Regions from separate parts of the Homo sapiens genome. Here regions 2, 3, 4 and 5 are each reported to be linked to region 1. Evidence: microRNA targets listed by miRTarBase, many of them from high-throughput screens and not tested one by one. Region 1 holds a microRNA gene; each other region holds the end of a gene's coding sequence.
What was found. The annotated mature microRNA hsa-miR-106b-5p reads UAAAGUGCUGACAGUGCAGAU and lies in region 1 at 3,164-3,184, shown strand. An mRNA with a match to its seed (bases 2 to 7 or 8) in the 3' UTR can be bound and repressed. Matches are read on the target gene's strand: a 7mer-m8 pairs with bases 2 to 8, a 7mer-A1 pairs with bases 2 to 7 and ends in A, and an 8mer does both.

Region 2: the mRNA of ATG2B is a reported target of hsa-miR-106b-5p. Seed matches in the 3' UTR shown: 8mer at 1,017-1,024.
Region 3: miRTarBase lists RPL7 as a target of hsa-miR-106b-5p. The part of its 3' UTR that is shown has no 7-base or 8-base seed match.
Region 4: miRTarBase lists MTMR3 as a target of hsa-miR-106b-5p. Seed matches in the 3' UTR shown: 7mer-m8 at 3,341-3,347 and 7mer-m8 at 1,561-1,567.
Region 5: the mRNA of ABTB2 is a reported target of hsa-miR-106b-5p. The part of its 3' UTR that is shown has no 7-base or 8-base seed match.

The regions. Positions count from the first base shown.
Region 1 is chr7:100,092,926-100,097,226 of GRCh38, reverse strand. It overlaps MIR106B (microRNA 106b), which reads left to right and starts at 3,153; the gene lies at 3,153-3,234. MCM7 (minichromosome maintenance complex component 7) reads left to right here. Exons shown (of 15, transcript NM_005916.5): 11 at 1,060-1,453; 12 at 1,757-1,840; 13 at 2,886-3,054; 14 at 3,826-3,935; 15 at 4,094-4,301. The coding sequence ends at 4,295. It overlaps MIR25 (microRNA 25), which reads left to right and starts at 3,584; the gene lies at 3,584-3,667. It overlaps MIR93 (microRNA 93), which reads left to right and starts at 3,380; the gene lies at 3,380-3,459. RefSeq lists an enhancer at 1,226-1,726.
Region 2 is chr14:96,282,181-96,286,180 of GRCh38, reverse strand. ATG2B (autophagy related 2B) reads left to right here. Exons shown (of 42, transcript NM_018036.7): 42 at 196-4,000. The coding sequence ends at 426. Among named protein-coding and RNA genes, the nearest start is that of BDKRB1-AS1, 16 kb to the right of the region's middle. RefSeq lists an enhancer at 3,321-3,861.
Region 3 is chr8:73,287,753-73,291,752 of GRCh38, reverse strand. It overlaps RPL7 (ribosomal protein L7), which reads left to right. Exons shown (of 7, transcript NM_000971.4): 5 at 92-201; 6 at 501-710; 7 at 1,048-1,511. The coding sequence ends at 709. Among named protein-coding and RNA genes, the nearest start is that of RPL7, 3.9 kb to the left of the region's middle.
Region 4 is chr22:30,025,231-30,029,230 of GRCh38, reverse strand. MTMR3 (myotubularin related protein 3) reads right to left here. Exons shown (of 20, transcript NM_021090.4): 20 at 1-3,601. The coding sequence ends at 3,430. The region is part of intron 3 of HORMAD2-AS1 (HORMAD2 and MTMR3 antisense RNA 1); the gene reads left to right. Among named protein-coding and RNA genes, the nearest start is that of MIR6818, 20 kb to the right of the region's middle.
Region 5 is chr11:34,148,692-34,152,691 of GRCh38, forward strand. ABTB2 (ankyrin repeat and BTB domain containing 2) reads right to left here. Exons shown (of 17, transcript NM_145804.3): 17 at 2,296-3,893. The coding sequence ends at 3,696. Among named protein-coding and RNA genes, the nearest start is that of NAT10, 45 kb to the left of the region's middle. RefSeq lists an enhancer at 1,229-1,758.

The sequences.
Region 1 (4,301 bases):
GCATGTTTGCTCACGCCTGTAATCCCAATGCTCTGAGAGGCTGAGGCAGGAGAATCATTTGAGGCGAGGATTTTGAGACCGCTTCCATGTCTACTAAAAAGTTTTGTTTTTGTTTTTGTTTTTTTTGAGATAGAGGCTTGCTCTTTCGCCCAGGCCGGAGTGCAGTGGCGCTATCTCGGTTCACTGCAAGCTCCACCTCCTGGGGTCACGCCATTCTCCTGCCTCAGCCTCCCGAGTAGCTGGGACTACAGGCGCCCGCCACCACGCCTGGCTAATTCTTTGTATTTTTAATAGAGACGGGGTTTCACCGTGTTAGCCAGATGGTCTCGATATCCTGACCTCGTGATCCGCCCGCCTCGGCCTCCCAAAGTGCTGGGATTACAGGCGTGAGCCACCGCACCCGGCCTAAAAAGTTTTTTTTGTTGTTTGGGTATTGTTTTGTTTTTTGTTTTTTTTGAGACGGAGTCTCAGTCACCCAGACTGGAGTGCAATGGCATGGTCTTGGCTCACTGCAACCTCTGCCTCCCAGGTTCAAGCAATTCTCCTGCTTCGGCCTCCCGAGTAGCTGGGACTACAGGCGCGTGCCACCACACTTGGCCACTTTTTGTATTTTTAGTAGAGACAGGGTTTACTGTGTTGGGCAGGCTGGTCTCGAACTCCTGACCTCGTGATCTGCCCGCCTTGTTATCGGCCTCCGAAAGTGCTGGGATTAGAGGAGTTAGCCACTGCGCCCGGCCTCTACTAAAAAGTTTTAAAAATTGGTTGGGTGTGGTAGTGAGTGCCTATAGTCTCAGTTACTTGGGAGGCTGAGGCCGGAGGATGGCTTGAGCCCAGGAGCCAAGGTTTCAGTGAGCCACAGTTGTGTTCTGAAGAGAACCAGTGGGAGGGGAAGGGGGACATTGCCAGTGCCCCACAGATCCTCGGGCATCTCAAGAAGGCCTGGTGGAGGGAGTGGAATGATCCCAGCGCAGGCCTCGCCTCCCTGGCCCGTTTGTTGTCTTTTGCTTGTTCTCTTTCTTGTTCTTTCTCTCTCATGGTTCCTTATTTCTTCTCTTCCAGGCCAGTACACAACAGGCCGGGGCTCCTCAGGAGTGGGGCTTACGGCAGCTGTGCTGAGAGACTCCGTGAGTGGAGAACTGACCTTAGAGGGTGGGGCCCTGGTGCTGGCTGACCAGGGTGTGTGCTGCATTGATGAGTTCGACAAGATGGCTGAGGCCGACCGCACAGCCATCCACGAGGTCATGGAGCAGCAGACCATCTCCATTGCCAAGGCCGGCATTCTCACCACACTCAATGCCCGCTGCTCCATCCTGGCTGCCGCCAACCCTGCCTACGGGCGCTACAACCCTCGCCGCAGCCTGGAGCAGAACATACAGCTACCTGCTGCACTGCTCTCCCGGTTTGACCTCCTCTGGCTGATTCAGGACCGGCCCGACCGAGACAATGACCTACGGTGAATGAAGCTCAACACCCAAAGAGAGGTCCCCTGTAATGATCTGTGTAGGGAGGAGGAGAGGTGAATCAGAAAACAAATTCCACGCTCCTGGAAACCCCAGAGCCTCCCCTTTGCAGCAGGGGCTGGTCCATGGTTCTCAGGGAAATGGTGGGTTGGGGCTGAAATGCTGATGAGGATTTCCCGGGAAAGCTTGTCCCTCCTACACTGTGAGGAAGTGGCAGAGCCAAAGGAGGGACACCTAAGAGGACATGGGTGCGTAGCCCTAAAAAGGGTGTTCCTTCTAACCTTCCCTCTGTCCAGGTTGGCCCAGCACATCACCTATGTGCACCAGCACAGCCGGCAGCCCCCCTCCCAGTTTGAACCTCTGGACATGAAGCTCATGAGGTAGGAGAGCTGGGTGCGGGTGGGCAAACGTTGGCGTGGGCCGTGCGAGCCTCCTGAAAAAGTGCTTATTAGTCTTAGGGTGTGTGTTTTTCACACCACCACTTCCCGCTACAGACATGTCCAGAGCCTCAGATCAGCTTTTAAGTGGAAAATTCCACACTTCATATCATAGGGACACAGGAAATTTTGTTTCCTACACTATTTATTTTTTTTGAGACGAAGTCTTGCTCTGTCACCCAGGCTGGAGTGTAGTGATCTCAGCTCTCTGCAACCTCTGCCTCCCAGATTCAAGCGATTCTCCTGCCTCAGCCTCCTGAGTAGCTGGGATTACAGGCGCACGCCACCACGCCTGGTTAATTTTTTGTATTTTAGTAGAGAGCAGTTTCACCATGTTGGCCAGGATGCCCACCTCTGCCTCCCAAAGTGCTGGGATTACAGGCATGAACCACTGCTCCTGGCCCACAAAAATATTTTTAATAAAATTACCTTCAGGTTATGTGTATCAGTTGTATATGAAATACAGGTGAATTTCATGTTTAGACTGGAGTCCCATCCCCAAGCTATCTCATGCATATGCAAATACTCCAAAATTTAAAGTTTAAAACACCTGCTCCCAGGCATTCTGGATGATAATCTCTATCGCTATTTTCCCATGAGCCTCCAGTGTTCTTTCCGGTTTTTACTCCCTTTTAAATATTCTGTAAACAGTTCTCTTTAAATAAAATATATGTTTTGCCATGTCATGCGCTCAGAGGAGGGGTCTGGATCCTCTCTTAATGACAGACGGATTTGTCTTACAAAGGCCATTTTCCCGAAAAAAATAGGAAATAACTTGGAGGATACTGGTGGGGGCTATACGTTTGGTGAAATCCATCAGTGATATTCAAGCCAAGCAAATAATCACCCACTAATTTGTGTTTTCCACTTAAAATTCTTGGAGGGGACCATGTTAAATGGGGAGCCCTGGTACAGAAAACAACATGGGCTCATATTCACTCCCTTCCCCATCTCCCTCTTCTGCTTCCCCATGAACCTTCCCCCACAGGCGTTACATAGCCATGTGCCGCGAGAAGCAGCCCATGGTGCCAGAGTCTCTGGCTGACTACATCACAGCAGCATACGTGGAGATGAGGCGAGAGGCTTGGGCTAGTAAGGATGCCACCTATACTTCTGCCCGGACCCTGCTGGCTATCCTGCGCCTTTCCACTGCTCTGGTAAGTGCCCAAATTGCTGGAGGGCCATCTGTTTTGACCCTTAAAGGGGTAGCTCCTTACCGTGCTCTCATTGCCGCCTCCCCACCTCCCGCTCCAGCCCTGCCGGGGCTAAAGTGCTGACAGTGCAGATAGTGGTCCTCTCCGTGCTACCGCACTGTGGGTACTTGCTGCTCCAGCAGGGCACGCACAGCGTCCGTGGAGGGAAAGGCCTTTTCCCCACTTCTTAACCTTCACTGAGAGGGTGGTTGGGGTCTGTTTCACTCCATGTGTCCTAGATCCTGTGCTACAGACCTTCCTTTCTGTCCTCCCGTCTTGGACCTCAGTCCTGGGGGCTCCAAAGTGCTGTTCGTGCAGGTAGTGTGATTACCCAACCTACTGCTGAGCTAGCACTTCCCGAGCCCCCGGGACACGTTCTCTCTGCCAATTGTCTTCTTGGCTGAGCTCCCCAAGCTCCATCTGTCATGCTGGGGAGCCCAGTGGCGTTCAAAAGGGTCTGGTCTCCCTCACAGGACAGCTGAACTCCGGGACTGGCCAGTGTTGAGAGGCGGAGACTTGGGCAATTGCTGGACGCTGCCCTGGGCATTGCACTTGTCTCGGTCTGACAGTGCCGGCCCAACACTGCGGATGCTGGGGGGAGGGGGGATTCCACTCCTGTTTTGTGAGTAGGCGACCCATGGGCTGCCCAGCCTTAAAGCCAGAACAAGGGTGTCCCCTGACCTCGTTCCACTGCCCTCCTCCCGTTCCCATCTTTCCCCCCTACCTTCCCCTTAGGCACGTCTGAGAATGGTGGATGTGGTGGAGAAAGAAGATGTGAATGAAGCCATCAGGCTAATGGAGATGTCAAAGGACTCTCTTCTAGGAGACAAGGGGCAGACAGCTAGGTGAGTGGTTTAGTGAAGGACAAAGCTGTGTCACTTTGTCTTCTGTGGCCATGTGTCTGAGGTTGGCCTCAATTCTAACACTGGCCACCATTGTTCTCTGTTGATGTCGAGCATTCCTGTTTGTATCCTGACCTTACACACCCACTCATTTCCTTCAGGACTCAGAGACCAGCAGATGTGATATTTGCCACCGTCCGTGAACTGGTCTCAGGGGGCCGAAGTGTCCGGTTCTCTGAGGCAGAGCAGCGCTGTGTATCTCGTGGCTTCACACCCGCCCAGTTCCAGGCGGCTCTGGATGAATATGAGGAGCTCAATGTCTGGCAGGTCAATGCTTCCCGGACACGGATCACTTTTGTCTGATTCCAG
Region 2 (4,000 bases), not on the chromosome of region 1:
TCTTTCCCTTATAGTTAGAATTCTGTCATTAAAAATAATAATCCTGGTTTATCTAAAAGCATGGCATTTTTTTTTGTCTGGTTACAAACATAATGTTACCTGCTTTAAAAGTGTGTACTGCAGGATAGCTTAGAGAGTTTTCCGACCAGAGTTTGTTCACTGCCCTCCTCTCTCCTACCTCCCTCCTCTACGCAGGGAATCACAGACACGGCTCAGACCATTTATGAAACTGCGGCTCGAGAACACGAGAGCAGAGGGGTGACTGGTGCCGTGGGCGAGGTTCTGCGCCAGATTCCTCCGGCAGTGGTGAAACCTCTGATTGTTGCCACAGAAGCAACGTCAAACGTGCTGGGTGGCATGAGAAACCAAATTAGGCCAGATGTCCGGCAAGACGAGTCACAGAAATGGCGCCACGGGGATGACTGATGGCTTGGAACTGACAGTGTGAAGATAAGGAGAGTGGAACCAGGAGCTCAGAGTCCTGACAGCAGCTTCAGAGGAAGCTCGTTTAATTTTATTGTGCTCATCTCAGGAACAAAAGCATTTTTTAGTTAAATAATTTAACATCAAAACAACATGCAACCAAAAACTTCTGACATTTATAGTTGATACTTGCCTATAGAAATGTTTGGTGGCTGGTGTCAAAGGTCCTTAAAGCATTTGCTGCCAAGTTAGTGGAAGGCTCACTTTTGTTAAGATGACTGTAATTCTCCTTGTTACCGACGAGAGATCATTGGAAGCTGCCTTCTAACACTTTGTGTAGCTCTGTGGAGTTGGATTTTCTTAAGGTTTAAAAAGAATCACAGCTTCGGAACTTTTAACTGAAAATGAGAGACAGAAGCCACAGGGGAAGCAAAGCAAATAGGATTTTCAATATAAATATCAGTGTGGAAAAATAACCTATTCTGTTGAATTTAGTGTTCATGCACTTGAGAACAACATTATTTCCATTTACTCCGAAAATCCTTCTGTGGGGGTTTGAGAAAGTGAATGTTGCAGACATGTTCTGTTGTGTTGCACTTTATCCTGTGTTTATGTGTATGTGTTTTTAGATTAATTCAAGTTGTGTGCTATATTTCTTGTATAATTTACAAAGTTACACAAAATATAAAGAGCAGTAAACTTGTCTGAAAGTTTTTGGCAAAGGAAGGTAACTTCAATGTAATAGCTTCCTTTAAGAGTACAGGAAAATGCATTCTGTAATGAAGTGGGGCCCATGTAATTGTTTATATTTTCAGTTTTAAGCAGGTATAGTGCAGGCTTGTTAGGAATGTGTGGAAGGGAAGATTGGAAGTGATTTTTCCTCTTTTAAAAGTAAACAAAATTCTTCAAATATGCCCTAGTTAACTATTTCAGCATACCATTTTTACTTGGTTAACAGTGTACATTTTGATAACCTATCAGGAATGAATAAAGTATTTTTATTTAAAGGTGATATTGTTTTATGCTTCCATGAATATTTTGCTTTTCTTAGAGCATATTCATAGATGCAGTACTGTGATTTACCACAAGATAATTGGGAACACTTTCTCAAAATCGATTTTGGTTAATATCAGGTAAATCATTACCTAGGAGTAAGAGGGAAATTGTTGTCAATTCCTGACTTTAGATTGATCCAGCAGAAAGAAAAGGTGGAACTTTGTATATATCCACTGTTGAAAGTTGCATGACCTGACTTCCTGTTTTCTAAAGTTGGGGGAATATTATTGAACTTCAATTTCAGAACTGCATTTCAATTTGGGGCTTGGAAAATGTAGTTAAATCAATTTCGTTCTCTAAATTTTCTAAGCAGGAAAGCAATGTAAACCAAAAATCAAAATGTTTAGAATTTATAAAAATGGGGTTATATAGCTTTTAATTTTAGTTTCCTTTTTACTGCCAAAAAACTTAAAAAGACAACAGCGTAACCACCTGTTTAAGCACCGTGGGACCATCTCTTATTCGGGTAGAGCCTGGTCCTGGCGACACACTAACAGGAAGGCGTGCTGTGTTACCGGGAAGGCGCCTCTGGCTGTGGGGTGCGTTCTGACCACCCCGCTCAGATGCCAGCATTTTCCATTTGCCCTTAAGGAAACTTGCTATGTGTGTTAACCCAGTTATGATTAGTCAAACTGGAAAACACTTGATCAAACTTAAAATTGTAAAATCTGTCTAACTTTTAAATATACTTTCCACAGTTGTACTTAAGTTCAATTAACTACAGTATAGAGAAAAATAATTATTCTCTTCTTTGCACCCGGAGTTGCAAACAAATTAAGTTTACAAATCTCATTTAAACATATATCTTTGTAATGTAATCTCCGCGGTTCTTTCTTTGTTCTACCCTCCTGCACCTGTTGTCGATGTAATCATTTTGGGAACAGAAACGTTGTGTCTCAAAAAGATTCGTTGTCAGTTCAGCCAAGATGTTCTTTACCTGAGATTCTGGAAAGATGTTTATCTATATCGGAACACTTCTACATTATTAAATGTCCTTAAGCTTTTTCTTTTTTACAAGTGTCTTTTCAGACTTTGGTGTTGTGATGACACAGTAGAAAGAGCGTGGCTAGAATCCGTGGTTTGCCACATCTGCAGCTTACCAAACGGATGACTTGTCCAGGACATCTGATCCCTGTAAGCCTCAGCATCCCTCCTGGTAAATGGAGGGTTTTTTACGACAAAGCCCAAAGGGAGGTTTTGGATGATTAGGCTGTGTGTGCGTGTGAGAATGATCACATGTGGCGTCATGCTTTGTACAGAGCCTCAGACCACTGGGCCTCGTCCAGTGAGAGTCCTCTCTGGCGACATCACACGCGGAGCAGCCAGGGGCCACCTTAGATCTCAGATCTCTCAGAGCAATACTTTTCTGAACTGCCACTGTGCCTGGGTGGTTGGGTTGGTGTCATGCTTCTGACTAGAGTAGATCGCGCATGTCCACCAGTGATACGTTGAGTCCTTACAGTTCCCCCCATGGAGTCCCATAAGCAGCTCCATCGAGATCTGTCAGCAAGTTGCAGGACCCCACAATGTTCTGACATGTTAAGACCCCCTTACATGACGAGTAGAGAGGCAGCTGAGGCCACAACCGTGTCTTCCTCTTGAATGGAGCTAACTCGGAACCCCCCGTTTTCTCTTCCTTTCTGCCCACCACTGAACATTGCCTTTTAGATAACTCAGTGTTTCTTCTAGATGTCATAGCAATAGACTTTCACTTTCATGAAGTTTGGGTACGATTTGGATTCTCGCTTAAGTACATATATTTATCAATATTTTTATAAGGCAAAGTTCACTTAAAAAATCTTTCCAAGTAGCAGTGTGCCTAAGATGGCAAAATACTAAAAACTGGTGTTTCCTGCTCCTGTTGTGTGTCACTTTTCAAGCCGATTGAAATATTTCTGGCTTTTAGGGCATTACTTTTTAACTATCTCCTTTAAAAACGATGTTCTGTAGGTTTAGTGTCTTTGTTCATTTCCAAAAGAGTCCAGACAACTGTGTCTGCCCCTGCAGAGGCTGTTTGTCCAAAGGCAGCATGCCGCTTCCACCGGAATGCAGACAGCAGGGGAGCGGAATTCTAAAGCAGCGACTTAAAATGAGGAATCCCCAATTGCACTAAATGGTTTCAGGATTGACTAATCATTGTCTTAACATTAACTCAGATTTTCAATGTGTAAAGAGCTGTGTGACTTGGCGTCTGAGAGATCCCTCTGCTTTGCTTTGCTTCAGAGTCCTCGCACCCGCATCCTCAGAACTGTGGGGCATGGTGGGCTCTAACGAGCACTCCCCTTCTGTTTTCCTTCATTACTTTTGACCTCCTTAAGACTTCAGAGAGAATGTCCGTCAAGTTCTTTTCTCCATCAAGTTCTTTAAGTTCCTTGAAAGGAAGGGACTGTGCAAACACAAAGCAATATTCTTTTGTATCTGCAAATGCATCAGCTGGACATACCAATTGGTATCAAATAGAATAAAATCAAATATAAATGTTTGAGTCTTAGGTTAAAAAGGAAGGTTATTTGTATAGTTT
Region 3 (4,000 bases), not on the chromosome of region 1:
GATTTCTATTTGATAAATTGGTTATGTAGCAACATGAATTTTAGATGTTTTAACAGTGGTCACCTTATTTATGTTTGCTTTTTCACTTCAGGTACCCCAATCTGAAGTCAGTAAATGAACTAATCTACAAGCGTGGTTATGGCAAAATCAATAAGAAGCGAATTGCTTTGACAGATAACGCTTTGATTGCTCGATCTCTTGGTAGGTTCTATTTGGGGGAAAATTTGGTATTAGACCATGCGATAATTTCTTACCCTCTTGTGGCCGTACATTTCTCACTATTGTGAATCTTCATGTGTTCCCTATGATTCTTGATTTAGCTTAAAAGAAAACGTAAGACATGGTTTCATTAGCTTGAACCTTATCTTTGTAAAGCCATGCATTTACCTTGTTTATTCCTGGTTATGTTTTCATCTCACAGCCTATTCAAAAAGATTTTGAATAATTATTTCAAAACTTTTTGCAACTTTAATAATCTTAAATAACCTTAAAATATTTAGGTAAATACGGCATCATCTGCATGGAGGATTTGATTCATGAGATCTATACTGTTGGAAAACGCTTCAAAGAGGCAAATAACTTCCTGTGGCCCTTCAAATTGTCTTCTCCACGAGGTGGAATGAAGAAAAAGACCACCCATTTTGTAGAAGGTGGAGATGCTGGCAACAGGGAGGACCAGATCAACAGGCTTATTAGAAGAATGAACTAAGGTGAGAGACCTCATCCTGAGAAAGGTTGAGTTAATGTTAGAGTATAAGTGGTGGTAATCTTGAATACTTTTCCCATTAAATATTGATGGGGGTTTGAATTTTAATCAGTGCTTTTGTGGGGAGTGGGGGTCAACTATCTTAATGATTACAGTTGGTTTGTTTACTGCTTTTGAGGACCTTTCTGGAGGAAAGGAAAAGCCTGTTTTGGGGAGTCTTTAAAGATGGAAATTGGGTGGTCTTAAAAATGTAAACTCAATCATTACTTTATAACTGCCTAGTTTATGTTAATTGTTAGCTGCCTAAAGTGTTTTCTAATGGTTTTCTTTTTTCCTTTCAGGTGTCTACCATGATTATTTTTCTAAGCTGGTTGGTTAATAAACAGTACCTGCTCTCAAATTGAAATATATTGTTGTATTTGTGATTTGTTGTTGTTGTTGTTAGCCTGCCTCTGTCTTCCCTTAACTACTGTGGCAAGTGTGGTGTGTGATAAAATTAAGCCAAATCAACAGCCCATTTCGTGCAAAATCAGGGTCGAGTCTGTGTGAAAGACATCTCTTGGGTTTTTAAAAGGCTTTTCTATACAAAAGATTTTAATTTTTTGTTTTTTAACTGTGCTGAGTGATTCGAAATGGGTTTATTCTAAGAAAGCCTGTTTCACAAGCATTTGTACATGATTTGTCGGTAAGGTAATCCAACTTTGGTTTATGGAAAAAATTGAATTTAGTTGCTAAAATTTATTTCTCGGGCCTTCGCTTGTTTATAAACTGCCATGTAAATGTGTTGTTTTCCTTTTGCATTCCATTTTTGTGTTCTTGTTTTGCATCTTTTGCCATACTTACGTGAGTTACTAATAATTGTTACATACTGTGGGTATTATGAAGGAAGGCATGAAATTTGTGCCCAGGGATGCAAATTATTTCAGAGCATCTGATGAAATTAATGGGCAAAAACTTCAAAGGTTTTTTTGTAAATAACATTCCTTTATACTTCATGTATTGTTTCACCTAGACTAGTGAACAATGTAGAGTGTAACATGAAGTACATAGAATGAGAGTAAAAATGTTTGTGGTCCTCATTTAGTTGTCAAAGTTCTGACACACTGAAACAGCTCCCTTAGTAATTATTTTGGTACTACTGCTCCACAGTCATTTATTGCTTTTTAATATTCGAAAGTTGCTAGACAAATAGAATTTCTTTGAGTTCTTTGTTCCTGGTTTTGGGACCTATTTCTCTGGCTTAGTAAGTTTGTTTAGGGTCAGTGAATTTTGGAGAGAAATCAAGATGATCGTTTATAAAAATCATTTTACATATTTATGATTGTATCAGTGTTTTGCTAGATGTTTTTTGTCTTAGCAGTTGGGTCAATATTTTGAAATAGTACATGGATATCTAGGTAGAGCCAAAGAGTTTATTTTTTAATTTTCCTTTGTAGAGATGAGATCCACACCAGCCTGTATTCCCCAGCATGTTACTGAACTCCTGGCCTCAAGCAATCCTACTGCCTCAGTCCCCTGAATAGTTGGGATTACAGGCATGACCCACTGCCTCCAGAGGGTTTTTAAGTTATAAATTCAGTTTTGTCTTACTGCTTTGGTAGATAGAGAGTACAGTTCCCAGTGTTAGCACATCCAGTGTCATGAAGGGTAGTTGTGCCTCAGAAGATGTCAGAGCCTGTTTGGCTTCCAGGTTTTAGAGGAATAGTGAGGGCCATCAGTGGCCTCTGCAGGGTCAGAATTAAGACTAATTATGGAATGAAGTTGTACAGATGGTGTATTGCTTGCTTAATCTAGGTGCAGGTGGGTGGGTGCATGAAATGTGGGAAGTCTTCATTGGGATAGGAATAAGCACTTTATATACAGAGAGATACTTAGCAAAGCTTTTTTTAAAAAAAAATATATAAATATATAGCCCATGCAGACACATATTGTAAGTGTGGCCTGGGGCCAGGGAGGATGGGGAAATGTGGGAGGGGTTGCAGAGAACCAGGATTCCCATAGAGAACAGAGTAAAGTGGGATAACCAATCTGGTTTTATAAGAGGATTGTGAGGAACAATAATAGGTACGAAAATGTTTGTGAGCTGGTGGAACCTATTCAAATGCAGATTAACACCTGATTAGGAAACTCACTTCTTATAAATGTCATTGCTTTCAAGGGATCCTCCTCTGGAAGGCCTAACCAACCTTAGGGGTCTGGGCACCCAGTAGGTTCTCCTACAAGATTACACCTCATATATGTTTATTTCCTGTTCATCCTTCTAAGGTCCGGCTTTCTCTAGTGGATGGTCCCTTAGCTATCTCAGTTTTTATAAAGTTGTCTTGGACTCACTGGCCTTTAACCAGTGTTAACCTAGTTAGTAACTTCTTTGAAGGTTCATTTGTGGTTCGCTGGATTAGGAGTGTTGGCTTCGGAGCCAGAGTGCTTGGGTTCATATCTAGTCTCCACTTATTTGTTAGCGTGGGCCAATAAATAATCTCTGTCTCGGTTTCCATGTCAGCAAAATGGAGATAATTTTGCCTAATTTCATAGGATTTTAATGAAGATTAAATGTTAACAGGTCCTGTAAAATGCTTAGAGCAGCGCCTAGCTCGAAAGTGCTCAATGCTGCTGTGCAGTATAGCTTCAGCACTTAATGTGGGCACACAACAGTGAATTACGGAAAATAGCCTCTGCTTTCAGGTATCAGTCTGATGGGAAGACAGGCAACAGATACAGTGAAATGAGTGCCCTGGGGATGTATAGGATGTGATAGAGCTTCTTAGGGGTGTCTGGTGTCTTTGTGGGCCCACCTCCATGGGAAGATTGACAGCTTTCTGCTCCCAGTGGTTTTCCTTAGAAATGTGGTGTCAAAGAGCCAAAACATTCCTCTCATGTGCCTCCCTTCTGTTAGGTAGTAAACTTTAAGGCCAGGCCTTTTAATTTCTGCCCATTTGCTGACATGTAGGCACTCAGTGTTAAGTGAATGTATTAGTTTTCTTTTGCTGCTGTAACAAATGACCATAAACTTAAGTGAATTTATTGTTTTAACTTTTCTGGAGGTCAGAAATCTAAAATAGGTTTCACAGCCAAATCAAGGGGTCAGCAGGCCTGTGTTACTTCTGAAGACTCCTTTTCTTTGCCTTTTCCAGTTCTGGGAGCCCCTTGCTTTTCTTGGTTCGTGGCATCTCTGCTTCCATCGTCTTTGATCTTCCTCCTGCCTCCCTCTTAATATAAAAACTTCTGTGATTACATTGGGCTACTTGAATAATTGAGGATAATCTCCCCATCTCAAAATCCTTAATTCAAGCACAC
Region 4 (4,000 bases), not on the chromosome of region 1:
GCAGCTCAAAGTCACAGTTCATGCCCTGTTGCTTCAGACCAAATTCCCTCTACAGCCTGAAGCAAGCTGGCCTTGCCCACAGAGAACTGCCTTTCTCCATATGCAGCCACCTCCCTCAGGGCAATTCCTTGCCTTGGATCCTCACTGCACCTGCTTCACCAGCATCTTGGCTCTTCATCTCCCTACCCCCAGAGAAGCTTTCCATTTAGGAGCTCGCAACGCCCTTCCTAGGCCATGCCAGTGTTTTAATTTGCTGGAGACTAGCCCACAGGAACAATAGTGGCTGTGTGTAGACACGATGGCCATGGCACACACTCATGGTTTTCACAACTTCATATGAATACACAGACTGGGCTGCCTGGCGGACTGAGGGTAGCTGAGATGGCACATTCTCCTTCCACAGAAGAATGATTTCTTGTTTTCAAACGCCTGCTGGGTGGCACTTACGGCTTTCACACTAGAACCAGCTCAGCTGGCTCTTTGTGTTTGTATACTTTAGGTAGAAGGTACATTCAGAAAGTGACCCTAGAGAGACTGCCCCAAAGAGTGAAGGCCTCTGGGGAGCTCTGAGCAGGTCACTCTGGATCTTAGCCAACTCACCACAGATGCTGGGCTGGCGCCTCTGGAGCAAGGCACCCCTCAATACCAACCTTCCCGAGGGAGGAACAGCATAACATATCTCACCCACAGACCCATGTGATGGGAGGGATGCCCAACAGTGCTGTAGGGTAAAGAAAAATCTACCTCTGTGAAGAGCAAGAACTAGTATTGAAGTGACTAGATGCCACAGTCCTGCTGTAAGAGCTAAGGAGCAGAGGTTCCTCTCTGTGTGGAGAGAGGGCGGGAAGGAGACCTCTAGTTGACTGCATAACCCAATCACATCTAATTCCATTTCTGCCCCCAGTTCTCTCTGCCCACCCATAGTCTATCCTTCAAGAACAACAGGCAGAAGCATTTTCTCACCCCCACCCCACATCTCCTTCCACTCCCCGACTGAAGGGGCCAGAGTACTGGCTGCCCTGAAATCAGAGCAGCAGCTAAAAATGGAGCCTTGAGGCGAGAGGTAGTTGTAATGACTACTGATGGGAACTCTTCAGAGAAGGAGGAATAGCTGCCAGGTCAGATCCCTGACTGCTTTGCCCTCTTTTAGCCTGGGAGATTTTAGGAGCAAAATCACTGAGGAAATGCGTTCAGTGCTTGAACATCATGGTGAGGCTCCTTGCCAAGGTCTAGAGTCGGAAGGCTATCTGTAGCTTTCCTTTGCCAAAGGTCAGTTTCCCAGCAGGCCCTCAAACACTTCTGTGTGAGAGGGAAAAGGGACGAAGAGGGGATAAACCACAGGGCAAAGAATTAGGAAGTGTTAGCAAATGCTACCATGTGGAACACTCAACTTTATTTGCTTTATTTATATATTTAACAATTCTAAAGTATTTACTTCTTGCTTTGACAAAAAATGAAAAATATAGGAGCACTGACTGACTCCTCTTTAGGAGAAAAGGGTTATATGTACAGCTATGGAGAGTTACGGTTCCTCCTTTAACAAAGGAAAATATTAATAAAAAAGTGCTTCATCGATCAAAAAAGAGCTAAGAGCTGCAAGCATTTATTCACACTGTACATCAGACCCAAGAAACCCGTATCATAACCTCTTGGCACCTGTCACTAGGAAATGCACAATCTTCAATTAGACCAACTTTTTCCCTACCTGCACGACTAGATGACACAGAATGTGGAAAAGAACTACACCCTGTTTCACCACGTTCAAACTGTGTTGCCACTGGAAGTCAGAGACGTGCTCAGATGCTCTGGGCTTTGCCTGGACTGAGAGCACCAGGGAAGCCTTCTGGGCCACGCCTTAACCACACCCAGGCATGCACAGAACCACCTTCCTGAGACACACCTTGCCCTTGGTCAGGGAACTGCTACCAAGGGGAAGAGGAATACAGGGCAGGGCCAGAGCTTAAGCATTCCCTGACCTTACCCCTAGTCCTCACCATGATCCACCCTGTCACCAGTTAGCAGCTTTCAGCAGAGTCAAGCATGGCCTCCCCAAGAGGGAGGGCAGGCACAAAACATGGATGCCAAGATTACAAAGCACAAACCTAACTCTTCTCCAACCTTCCCCACACCTACCTCCACAAATATTCTTGATTTAAGGCTGTTTTTGGACCATATCAAAGCTCACTGAGGAAAGGTGCCCTGAATCTCCTCAAGGCCATGTCACTTCTCTAAGGAACCCTACGAAGTCACCAAGTGGCCCTTCACTGCTGGCCAGCAGCCAGACAAGTGCCCACTCAGACAGCCAGGAGTGGCAAAGGGGGACTGCTCAGCAGTTATTCCTGTCCCAAGAAGAGAAGAGGAGAAAGGCTGATTGTATGGGACCTGCTCCCTTTTCCAGGGGCTTGTAACTCTAAAGGCTGATTCTACCCCTTAAAGGGAAGATCCATGATTGGTTTGGTTTGGGAACGGGGGATTTCTGGAACCCTGAGTCTGGATTTCCCTGTGCTGGCTGAGGAAGAGATTGTTTAGGGGACCAGGCCCCAGAATGGGGACCCAGGTGTGTCTGGGCTCAGGGCAGGCTTTGGCCTTGACTGCATAAACATTTTGACCAGTCTGTACTCATGCCTGAGGGTGGGAAGTGCTACACAGCCTGGCCCAGGAAAGCAGCCCCCTGAAAGTAAAAGGAGCCCAAGACAATCTGGGTCAAGTTAAAAATGGGATCCCACGGGGGACAACATGACGGCTACCCACTCCCAGCCCCTCGCCTGCCTCAAAGGAGCATCCACTTTCCTTTCCCAAAGAGGCGCCTAAGGGGATGCCATTTACCGTGTGCCTCTCCCTCCAAACATCAGCCTCATTTATCCATCTGTGAGGGGACTGGCTCAGCTCCTCGCAGGAGGGAGATGATGCCCAGGGCAGTGCTCTTGGGGAATATGCTTCCAGCCTCCCCAGCAGCAAAGGGTTCCCAACCAGCTCTGATGTGGCGGTGGCGTGAGGAATGGTTGCATGTTAGCACTGGCTTTCTTCCCTGCTCACGGTCTCAGATCTCCATACTCCTGGCTCTGACCACCATCCTCCCACCCGGAAGAAACAAGCCATCCCTCAGTGTCACGTGACAGCAGGCAGCTCGGCAGTTACAGTGGGCCTGGCAACCCTTGGTCTTCCATCAAAAAAAAAAAAAATTAAGACAACCAAGGGAAAGTTTCCTTTTTTGAAGGCAGAGGAGGAGGATGGAAAAGGTAGGGAGGGAGTAGGGGGACAGGAAAGAAAAATCAATCTACAATCCAGTGGTGCATCCCAAATCTGTCACTCTGTACAGGTGGTTCCACGCTCCCATTCCAAAGTGCACGGGCCTCTCGGTCTGCCCAGGTTGAGTGGGCCTGTCATAGGAACAGCAGCTTGGCCACTGCCCACCCAGGTCACTGAGCTTCAGTTGGAAGTGGCAGCAATGGGCTTATCCAGTTCAAGGTCAATGCTGGAGCTTGTGGGATGTAGGCTGCTATAGCAAGACTTGCATACTCGACTGGGTTCAAAGAGCTGCTGGCTGGGAACTGGAACCTTCTGGTTACAACAACTGGAGCAGAATACGTTCCCACAATTCCTTGAGATGAGAAGAAACAGAACAATGTTAGTTTTGGCCAGCAGGTATGCGGAGGGAAACCAACTTCAAAAGACAAACTTTGCCGTGTGTAATTTGCATGTGCTGGAGCTCCTTGAGATCAAACCCTTTCATCTCTCTAGCCCAGGAACAAGCTGGGTAGGGAGGGTGTCCCTACCTAGCAGAGTCACATGTCATTTTCACTTTGGGGCCAAGGATTCTTGGCTGCCTCACCACTGACTCAAAAGAATGCTGCTCAGGTATACAAAAGAATGCTGCTCAAGAGAGATCTGTAAGAATACATGGTCCTAACAATGGGTTAGTCCTGATCCAGGAAAACCCAGTGGCCACACCCACCTAGGCAATGCCCTCTGTGTAGCTTGTGATCACAGAGGCCAGGCT
Region 5 (4,000 bases), not on the chromosome of region 1:
AGAAGGTTACTAAATGGTCACCCCCCATACCCCCTCGCCAGGCGGGGCTAATGCCGGCCTGCTTCAGTGCTTCCACTGCTCATCTGGCCCGGAAGTCCCGGAGGACTCCGGATGACCAGGAGACGGGACACAAAGGGGGCCGCTGAGGCTGGGAGGTGGGGGAGGGGCAGAAATAAGTGACCGTCACCTTGGAAAAATGTAGACTCATTATCTGAGGCCTGTTACAACACCCGCAGCCATTCTGCAGGCCTGGAGGAGGGGGTGGGGTCGGAAGCCCCTTGGGCTGGAATAGACAATTTCAGGGGATTGCCCCTGAGGGGGCATGCCCTTGATTCTACAAACAATTGGTTCCAGTTAAACATCATCTGGATCCTGCAAAGCGGACTTGAAAGGCAGCCTGAAAGGGAGAGGCCGGGGCTTCCTGCTTGGGCTGGTTCCGTTGAGAAAGCTCTAGCCACCTGGTATCTGGCACGGGGACTAATGTGGAAAAGGATAACTGGCCTTCCAGGCCGAGAGCCTAAAGGAAAGCTTCAGGAGAAGATTTGAATGCAGGAAAGAAACCAGACAGCCTCAAAAAGGACAATCTCAGTGTTAGCCCTGTCGGTGCAGGAGCAGACTGGTACCTGCCACCTCTGGAGAGGTGTTTTCTTTGGAGACGGCTAAGGCGCCAGCTTATGCTTGCCTGTGGACCCACTGGAGCCGAGTGAAATCCCTGTAGATGCAACCCATGCTCACAGCACCTGGGTCCTCAAGGGCTCCAGTAAGAGGGTAACTCCCCCAAGCCTGCCTGTGGCTGCTCATAGCAGGCGGAGCAGGGCAGGCCGTGAGCAGTGGCCCGGAATTAGGAGGTCCAGCTGCCTGGGTAAGTGATCATTTCTGTTTGAGTCCTAGCCCCTTGGAAGCATGTCTGCTTTTTTTTGGTAATTATTTTAATTTTAAATGTTTATTCAAAAATGTATTCCTGCTACCCACAGGCTCCAAGGGGCCCGCTCCCTCCTTCCTACCTCCACTTTCTCTCAACCCCCCACTCACCCTCTCAAGAGAGGAAATGGTGGATCCCTCATCTGGAGCCAGAATGCAACTAGATCTTGCTTTCTAGGCTGGGTACGGACCAAGGCATGTCCTGCAGGGATGGGGGAACTTGTGGGGACGCTGGACACAGACCCATGAAGGGCAGCCACTTTGAATGGCAAGTGCTGGGGACGGACAGCCCGCTCCACCACCGTCTTGGGCCACTGCACAGGAAGATGGTGTGGGGGAGTGCGCCCCCTCCTAGTGGCCCCCAGAGGGCACCATGGGTCTGTGCGGCCACAGGTCCCCAGGCTGGGCCTCGAGCTGCCCTGCGCAGCTCCTGCTGGAATTGGGCTTTGCCAGGGACTGGGATCTTTATGTCGTTCCCCTAACGCCTGAGTCACGGCCGGTCACTGACCCACAGCCACTTTGGTTCAGGTTCTCAGTGACCTTAGGAATTTCTATACCTGTTTCAGGCAGGCAGGCAGGCGACTTTTTTTTTGAGAGAGAGTCTTGCTTTGTTGTCCAGGCTGAGGTGCAGGGGTGATCATAGCTCACTGCAGCCTCGAACCCCTGGGCTCTGTGATCCTCCCACCTCAGCCTCCTGAGCAGCTGGGAATACAGATGTGCACCACTATGCCCAGCTAACTGGCAGGGAATGTTTTAAAAACTTATATTTGTGCCTGAACTTTGCACCTAAAACTACAGCCATAACTCCAGTACACTCTTGGACCTGAGTCGGCGCCTCACCATCTCCCTCCATTACCTCTGCTAGTGGCCTTGTGGTGGTACAGCCAGCTTAGCTTAGCTGGGCCTGGGGGCAGCAGTCACCCAGGGATAGGTCCCTCAAATCAATCAGGCCAGGTCAGGCCTGGGTGAAGGAGGCCCTGCTGCCACTTTGGTGGGCTGTGCCATTTGGGGATGTGCCTCTGAAGACAACCCCCAAAATAGCTCCCACATAAAGGGCCGTGGAGGGGATGGGAGTGGAGATCAGGAAAGCCTGATAGTGTCATATTCCTCAGTCATTTGGTGTCTGTCCAGCTCAGTGGCACACATGTGCTTAATTAAATGTGAGCGTGGGCGGGTGAGGAATGGATCCAGGCTTCGTTTCTGGAGAGAGGCGAGTGCTGGGTGGCCACAGCAATGGCTTTGGTAGGGTCTTGGCTCTGAGAGGGGGGAGACCTGAGTAACAGCGTTAGCTCTGGGATCTCTTCCTGGTCCTAAGGGGCTCCTCCCCAGTTCTGAACTCTGAGTAACCCTCTACCAGGAGCAGTGAGGCCAAGGTCATTGTTAATGAGTGTTTATTGTTAATAAAACCATAGTACATTTACAGTAAGTGACAACATTATTGTACAGTTAAAGTATCATACAATATTACAGCAATAAAATAATGCCTATTTCTTTGTACATCCAGCCAAGCAGCTAGTCAAAATATTTTCCAGAATTGCAAGCCCCTGGGGGCTTTTCAGGGTGACCTGAGTGCCACCTTCTGAAATGCCTGGGGCTTTTGGTGAATAAATAGTTTTTAAGGTGCGGCCAGACAGCTGAAGAAGTTGCACCCAGACAGACTGTGCCTGATGCTGCCCCAGTGTCTGGTCCATAAATATGACAGGTGTCAGGGGAGCCCAGGGCCTGCAGAATTCGAGGGCAAGGCCGTGAGGGGACACAGCAGAAAGGCCTCTTCTCCTGGCCCTTACCTTCCATCAATGCCCTGTCCTTTAATCTCCAAGAGTCACAGTCCCCAGTGGGACCTGTTTGCCCAGCTCTCAATCCTACATTAAAGGAGCCGAGAGACTTGACCAGGGGACTCTGCTTCATCGCCCCCACAAAGGCAACCTAGTCTAGGCCTGAGGTTCCAGAATCCACCCATTTACTTTGGCCCCTAAAACCAGCAGCAAAACAAGAGCTGAGGCCATTCCTACACAGCACCCCATCCCCTACCCCTTGCCCCTCCATGCCAGACTTAGCTCAGAAACCATCAAGCTGGGGAACTGCCCTCTGCTGCTAACTGAGCAAGCTGGTAGTCCTGATGGGAGGGACTCTGGAAGCCCAGGCACCAAAGACAATGGGGGAACTCCGGGTGGCAGCAGTCGTGGTGGCAGGGGGGGGTCCACAGGCCACTGGATGCCCACATTAAGCCTGTCAAACCTTTGAAGAACAAGTTTGGGGATTTGGGCAGCCTTTGCTATGTGACATTTAGGAAGAAAAATACCAGCTTTTGAATTACTGCAGACGACTGGGGGCCTAGGCAGTATGCATTCTATACATTCATAAGGATTCCTGTACCCCCAGGAGCCCCAGTTGGGATGGTCTGAGTTTACTGAGGCCCTAGGGGTGAGTAGAGCTTGGAGGGCCTGGGCGGAGGTGGATCAGGATCAGCTGCTGACCTGCAGGAGGGGAGAGCGACACCCCGGGGGAGTGCATGGCTGCCCTTGAGTTGCAAACTGAGATGGGGAGGAGGGCCACCAGTTAGCTACATCTCCCCTTTGCCCATCAGTGATTGAACAAACAGCTCTAGGGCAGAGGAGATGAGGGTGAGCTGCCCGGTGACAGGGGGGACATCTGGGGGAGGAGGAGGAAACAGCCCCGTGAACCTGGCTCCAAGAGGGCCTACAACCATACCCCGACATGGTGGGCCCTGGCACCTCCACAGGCCCTGGCCTCGGCAGCCTCCGCCCCCTGCCTCACACCCGGGAGGTGATGTAGACAGAGTGCACGCGCTCTGCCAGGGTGTTCTGCAGGTCCTGCAGTGGATCCAGGCCCTGCACTTTGCTGCTGCGGCCGTAGATGAGCTGCCGGAAGGCATCCTGCTCCAGTAGGGCCTTCATGTGCTTGAGGAAGAAGCCCTCACAGAACAGGGCCAGTTCTGGGGCATTGTGGATCTGTAGGGCAGAGAGAGGAGGGGTGAAGCCCATCGCCTTAGTACAGCCCCACTCACCCTCACCCCCAAATACTACCTACCCATGGCCACAGCCCTGATTAAGCCCCA